2 linked regions of the Homo sapiens genome follow. The protein of the gene in region 1 interacts with the protein of each later gene in a pairwise test. Each region holds a gene or a part of one and is shown on either strand. Other genes may lie near its edges.

Evidence for each region. The genes of interacting proteins can lie anywhere in the genome.
Region 2: the proteins of CACHD1 (region 1) and ZMIZ1 interact in a two-hybrid assay, tested with the Homo sapiens proteins (one large-scale study listed by IntAct).

What each region holds. Positions count from the first base shown.
Region 1 is NC_000001.11:64,690,129-64,693,553, reverse strand, and holds the end of CACHD1 (VWFA and cache domain-containing protein 1 isoform 1 precursor), read right to left. Parts: intron 2,232-3,425; coding exon 1,993-2,231; 3' UTR 501-1,992; downstream 1-500. UniProt on the Homo sapiens protein: May regulate voltage-dependent calcium channels.
Region 2 is NC_000010.11:79,067,788-79,071,765, reverse strand, and holds the start of ZMIZ1 (zinc finger MIZ domain-containing protein 1), read right to left. Parts: upstream 2,801-3,978; 5' UTR 2,496-2,800; intron 1-2,495. UniProt on the Homo sapiens protein: Acts as a transcriptional coactivator. Increases ligand-dependent transcriptional activity of AR and promotes AR sumoylation. The stimulation of AR activity is dependent upon sumoylation.

The sequences.
Region 1 (3,425 bases):
CCCAAAAGATACAAAATGTATTCTGTTATTGTGTTTCTATAGGGGTACCTATTTCATTTTTAAGCTCTAAGTTTTGTGATTCTTTTCTTGAAAGCACCAAGTTTCCACTGCACTTCTCCCTCCTCAATCAATTTCCTAACACAGAGTTTCTCAACCTTAGGAAACAAACTAGTATCCCATGAAGAAGTTTAATTTTCTGGGAAGGCAGGAAACTCATTTAATCCTTCTAGCAGTTAGAGAAGAACCATTTATTATTAGTGACATGGATATAGATGCTCAGGAAGGGATAGCTATGTTCTATACATTTTTATCCCATTATATTGTTAAGTTGTTTGCATATTTGATCTAGATGGTCAAGAAGCCCTAGAAGTTGACTGTAGCATTGAAAGGAGGTCTATTTTCAGTTTGGCAACTGACCTGGCTAGGTTACAAAATGAATGTAACTTGCCTTGAGGCACAAGGAGTGGTACATTAACAAATCACTGTAGCCACTAAAATGGTCCATTGCATACGGTTTATTTCACTAGATTGCAATTTTATACACAGTATGAAGGGGTTTCCTGATAGCACATATATAGTTTACTTTCTGTACTGCTGAAGAACCAATTGTTTTTTACATTGTATCATAATACCCTATCATTAAAACATTATTCAGTGAATTTTTTCCAACTACATATAAACGGAGATTTACCACACACATTCTTTACCATGGTGCAAGAATGCCTTTATAACATATTTGAATCACAAAATGTGAGTCTAAAATACATCACTGTAATTAAAACACTACTTTAAAGTTACAATGCCCCATGTTATAGTAGCCAGATTTGATTAATCCCTGTATAAATCACAAAGCAATTTGGTGGATAATGTCTTGGCTAACTGGCAGCAGCTTTTAACCGTGATATTAAAAAAAAAATTCTTTAATTAAGAACCAGACTTTCACAATTTAGAAAACTTCTTCCCTTATATGTCAATATTCTCAGTCAAAATGGGATATTTAAAAATTTGTAGTCTCTAAAACAAGGAAAATAAATCCAACCCTCCCTTAGCTGAAAGGATGCGGTTCTAACATTAGGTTTCGTAGAAACCTAAGAATAGCATTGTACGAGGAGTGGAAACAAGTCATAAGAAACATAACATTTCTTTTAAAACCTCTTAAATTCCTCTGCCCCTCCCCATCTCTGTCAAACACAGAGAAAGAATACTGCATTACAAACAAAGATGTGTTTCCGTGAAATGATGTAAACAAGTCAGAGAGAAAGATTTCTTCATTTTCCTATTTTGTGGAGTGGGGCAGTGGGATATCAGTTAAATAAGAAATAGAGCTCCTTAATCAAAGAACCACTTCATTACACACAAAACAGCTCGGGGCAACTGCTGAAAACTTCTCCTGTGTTTCCTTTCCTTTTCCCCAAAGTTTGAGAATGTTTGAAAGTTCAATAAATAGTAGAAAAATAATCCTTTACTTAGAAATTCTGAGATGCATCGTTTAGAGCATAACATGAGTTCCATACAGCAACTGTGGTATCCAGGTACCGCTAAGAAACAAAGCGAAATCTTCAATGCACACATTTGTATCTGCATGTGCCACATTCCAGTCTCTGGGTGAGCAGATTTTTCTCTCTTCCAGTTAAGGAGAGCTGAATGCTTCTGGCTCTTTGGAACATTCCTCTGGCTCAGCTTCACTTGCAGGTTCCGTCTCTGTGTTTGGAGGTTCGCCTTCTGTTACCTTCCATTAGTGTTATGGCAGGTCTGTTCATCAGGCTTATTTCCCCTCCATTTCAGAACCAGCCTCACATCTTCACAAATGTGACTGTGTTGTTGTTTCTCTCGTTTTTAACCATGTCGACAGGCAGGAAATGACTCAAACAACTCTGCACAAAGCACAAACACAAGGGAGGTCTCTTGCTGTGGGTTTTAAGCCGGTTCTTTTTCTTTCCAGAACATTCTGTAGCTCCCAGATCTCATCTTGGCGTGGAGGTGAGGAGATTGTTAGCATTCTGCATCGACAGTGTGTACCGTGACGGCCGCCTGTAAGTGGTGGCTATGATGAAGTGTAGGGTGGTGTGACCGGTAGTGGTGGAACTTGTGACTTAGTAGGGCAGCAGTCTGAGGGGGGGTATCCAGGTCTAAGTCCTCATCATGGTTTCCCACATCGACCCCGGCTGACAAGGGGTCATTGTTGCATGGAGGATTTTCACTGTCCTCCTGTGGGCTCATGGTGCTGTAACCTAGAAAAAGAACAAAACAAACACACAGCTGAGAGCTTCAAGACGCAGACAGAAGATTTCACCTACAATTTCTAGGGCACTGGGAGGTATTCCTGTCTTTGCAATACATAGGTGCAAACACTGGCAGACTGTCAGCAGATGCTAAAGTAATTTATTTTTAAAGAGATTTAGTGATAACTCTTTTTTTCCCTTAAAAAACAATGACACAATAAATACATAACCACTTCAGACAGCTGAGAAAGTACAGAGGAGAAAAAAAAAATAAACAAGAACCCTTATCCCAAATCCCCAAACCAGCAACACAAAAATGAAAATCACACTACATCCCATCATCCATGGCGAGCCACCACTGGGGACCTATCTTTCTACACTTTTACCTATGATAAAGATAATCTTTTTTATTAAAGAAATCCAAAAAATGGACAGCTTCAAGAAGAAGATCTGAACAGGATTCAGATCAACTGGGGCTGGTGCGGAAATCTGGGCTTCCGCCTGAATGCCTGAATGTGACGCCACAATAGAACAAAAAGAACCATCACCATCACCTGCGTGCTTGCTTGGTAGCAGGCACTTGTGTCAGGCAATTCTTGCACACCAATGGTGATATATTTTAATATACATTTTACAATTCAGGGAAATGATGATCAGAGAGGTTAAGGAATTTGCCCAAAGTTCTAGTGCCTAATGAAACACTAACTCCACATATACCCAGGGCAACTAGCTGTGCAATCAGCTATTCTCTGTGTTAGCTGCCCCCCACCCCATTTAAATTTAATTTCTTTTGGTATTCTAAGTAATACATGTTTCAAAGGCAAATGCCCTTGCTGATCAAAGGATTCCATTCTGAGATTCCTGGCATGTTTTTAAATATTGCAAAAATCTCCTTTAAACATTTTAAGAAGCAACAGCTCATTAATATTTCCATTGCATCTACAGTTAGCGTCAATCAGCACTTACCCGTGGGTAATGCTAGTCACATTCATGGCTGCAAAATTGATGTTCTTGCATGCAGCCAAGCAGGAGTCATTGGTGGTTGAAATTGTATGCTCTGTGCAAAAATTCTGTCCTCAATGAAACATTACTCAAATGATAGAATTATTTAGCTGTCAGTCCAACTTAACAAATATTTACTGCGTACCTATAATATACAAGTCACTGTGTTGGGCACTGGAAGACATATAAAGATGAAAGCCT
Region 2 (3,978 bases), on another chromosome or scaffold:
CTGTAGCAGATAGGGCTTTCAATGTGTCTTTTGTTTGATGCTGATGTTTCAACATCCTCGACTTGAAGAGGGAAAGGTCAGCCCAAGGCTTGGGGTATTCACAAACCCACCCGGCCCCTGCACTGGGGCCAGGAGCCAGCAAGTGAGGGGCCAGGAATTTCCCCCACTCTGGACCCCCTCACAAAGCAGCCGGGGCTGAGAAGGCTAAGAAAGAGCTTGCTCTCTCATCTCAACTTCCCCGATAGCTCAACAGCAGCTTCACACTCCCGGGACCGTACAAGCGCCAGCGAACGCAGGCTGGAATTCACCAGCGCCAAGCTGCCCGGCTCTCCAGCCCCGGCGCCTGCCTCTTTATCTGTACCTTCAAAAACAGTAATAAGCAAACCCAGGCACCTCTGGGAACAGCCTCTGGCCTCCTGCCCTGCCCTGTGTAACCAGCCTGTCCTCACACCCACCAGGGAGGAGGAGTCGGCACTGGTTAACCCTCTGGTCTACCAGGCCCGGTTCCCAGGTTGCAGCAGGGAGACAAACTGTTGCTCAAGAAAATCCTTCAGAAAACCCTTGGCACCAGGAGGCAGCTCGGAGCGGCTCTGCACCCGGCGCGGAGCCAGGGGCTTCCACAGGCGGCCGCCCACTGCCCTTTTAAATCTTTGGGGCTGGGCCCTACTCTCCCATGCCCTGGGCTGTCCACCCAGAGGGCTCCAAATGTCCGTGGCAGAGCAGAGAGGAGGGAAAGGCTGGCCGAGCCGTGCCCTCACCCCGCCAGCCCAGCCGCCAGCTTCTTGGAGGACCTCTGAGAGAACATTTGTTTGGGCTGCCAAGTTAAATCTTCCTCCCTCATGTCAGGGCATTGGAAAAGCAGTCAGGGGAGAGGAGAAGGGGGAGAGCGCGCGGGGGAAGGAGCAGCGGGAGGGAGGGAGGGAGGGAGGCAGGCGGGCAGGCTCAAAGCCCCAGTTACTCGGGCACTGCCTACCCAGGAAGCTGACGGCTCCCGGGCAGGCGCAGCCGGGGCTCCGGGCACCGAAGCAGGGACCCGGCCGTCAGGCCTCCCCGGTCAGGCAAGGGTACCAAGCACCCTTGGCCCACCTGGGAGCGGCCCTCGCTCTGTGACCTGCTGGAGGGACGAGGTGGGAAGGGAAGGCAGAGAAGGAAAAAGTTTGCTGCAGGTAGAGGGGTAGGGCTGGGCGGCAGTGCCGACCGGCTGTCCCCGGGGAGGGGTGGGGGGCCCGGACCGGCTGCCCTGGCGCGCTCCCGTCCGCCCGCCCTCCCGCCCGGGTTGTTTACATTCCTGGAGTGTCTTTTAAACCCGGGGCTGAGGCCGGCTCCCGGCCTTCTCCGGCGGCTCCGGGGCAGTCTCCCGTGAAAATCTGCTGGCGCACAATGGCCGGGAAGGCGGCCGCCCCTCGCCCGCGCCCCCACCGCTCCAGGGCGGGGAGCCTGCCCTCCGCACCGCGCCCTATCCCCGCCCGGCCGGCTTCCTGGACAGATGTCCCCAGCGAGGGGGCGACGCGCGCCCGCTGCCCGCGCCCTAGACGCCGAGGCCGCGCTCCCCACTGTTTTTTCCCCAGCCCAGACGCCAGGAATGTGAAGCAAGCTTCCAGAACCCGCCTCCCCCCCCCGACCCCGGCTCCAGCCCCGGCCCCCCAACCTCCGCCCCGGCTGGCCTCCCACTCCCCCGGGGCCACCGCCGCCGGAGACGGAGAGGAAGAAAGAACACGGGGAAATTACTTTCGTATTTGCAACGCGCGCGCGCACACACACGCACATCTTCCCCCTGGGCTCCCCTCCTGGCCGGGGCAGCCCCGTCCAGGCACTGGCCTGAGCGCCCCTCTGGCTTGCGAAGCCCTGGGAGAAAACCCTGCACACACACCTCCGCGTTTCTCGTTTGTACCGCGCGCCAGCTTTCCCCGGGCAATTCCCACACAAACAACTTAACCGCGCCCCCACCTCCCATTTACAAAAGTGTATGTTTTCCCTGGAAATTCAGACGCACAAGTTAACACCACCACCCCTTGCCATCCTGAAATCCAGCGCTTTCCCCAGCGGTTCCTGTACACACACAGGCGCACAACTTCGCATCTCCCCAGAGGAGGCGAAGGAGACCGAGGCGGTCCTTCCCTCCCTCCTCCGATTCCCGGTCCTGCCCGGCCCCCGGGTGTAGGGAGCGAGGGCTGGAGGCGCGCCGGCAGGAGGCGGGCACCGGGTCCGCGCGCGCACGACCACACTTACGCCCCGCACACCCTGACAAACCCGGCCCCCACGCGCAGCCCAAGCCGGCTCCGCGCAGCCGGGAGCTCGCCGGCCGCCGGGCCTCGGCCCCCGGCCGCCAAGGAGAGCGGAGCGGAGCCCGCGCCGCCGGCCGGTCGCCCCGCTCCGGGGGACACTTTAAGGGAAAAACCCCAGCACCCAATCCCCACGCTTGCACCCCGAGAGTCCCCGGGGAGCGGGAGGTAGCCCCGGAGCCAGCGGGCGCCTGGCTCTGGCCCCAAACTTACCGGGCGCTGCGAGCGCCGCTGCCGCCGCTGGAGGACGCGCCGCCGCCACCGCCGGGTAGGGCAGGCTCGGGCCGGGAGGAGCGCAGCGAGGGCGCCGAGATCCGCTCGGCTCCGGCTCCTGCTCCGCGCCGGCTGGGGCTGGGGTCACCGCGCTGCGCCGGCGTTGCTCGCTCGCTCGGCCGCCCGATCGCTGCTCGCCCGCCTGCCGCCCGGCCGCCCGCTCTCCCCGGCGCCCGCCGCCGCCGCTCGCTTTTTTAATGTCCACAGACAGTGAAAAGGAACTCGGCGTTAGGGGGTGAGTAAGTGAATCAACTCGCCCGGAGCCGAGCAAGTTGAAGTGTCAGATTACATTGGCTATTCTATTTCCAAAGGGCCCCGCGCCGCCGGCCGCCCGCAAAAGCCGGTGCGGAGTCAGGCCGGAGTGGAGCGCCGCGCCGCGCCGCCGCCGCTGCCGGCGCTCGGCTTGGCTCGCGCTCTGCGCTCTCTTTCCCCTTTCCTTTTCGCCTCTCCTCGTTCTCTCCCTCGCCTTTCCTTTCCTTTCTCTTCCTCTCTTCCTCGCTCCTCGGTCTCGGCGCTCTCCCAGCTTTTCTTCTCCTGGCTCCTGGTTCCCCGCTACGCCACCAGTCCACTCACCTCTCTCCTTGCCCTACTCCCTCCGCTACTCCCTGACGCCCCCTGCAGCCCCCAGCCCCCCTGCAGGCCCCAGCCCCAGTAAGTTTGGAGAGGGGAACAAATGCTGAGCCTAGGTAGGGACCACCTTGGGGAGGAAGCCAAAATCACACTGCTCACCCGAGAGCCCCTGCCCCGCGCTGGCACGCCCCCGCCTGGAGTGCACTCGTGGCCCCGGGCGCTGTCAGGTACCCGAATTGGGGTAAGCGAGTTGGTAACTGGACCTCCAAAGCCTTCCCCTGGGGTTGACTTTGGAATTGTTCCTACAGCCCGGGGACTGGTGGTTGGGGTGGGAAGAGGACCACCACCACCAAGGGTGACTTTGAGGGAGACTAGAGCGCGGCCCCCCGACAGCTGTGGGGGAGCGGGGGTGTGGTGGCCACAGTTGATCCGCGGCACCTAGCACAGTCCAGAGACGCGTGGATTCCCCTAGGCCCGGCGCGGAGCGCCCGGGGCGCTGTGCGCGCGGGCTGCGTGGGAGCTGCTAGGCTGGGGCCTGGCCCTCTGCCCCGGACTGGGCACTGCCAGAGATAGCGGAGAGCTAAGGTACTCACGAGGCGCAGTTGGGTGCACCCACTCGCGGGAGTTCCCCTAGCCGACCCACCCCCCCCCCCCGAGAGCATCCAACTACGCGCCCACTTTGGCTCACGTCCACTGCCACTCTCACGGAAACTCCTACAAGAACGGCACACACGTTCGCTCCCTCAGCATTGCAAACACGCTCCCCCCCAAACCACAAACGCGCCCCCACACACTCGCTTACTTTCCCTCACAAAGATGCCCGCTTACACGGCCACAGCAGGCACGCTCAGAG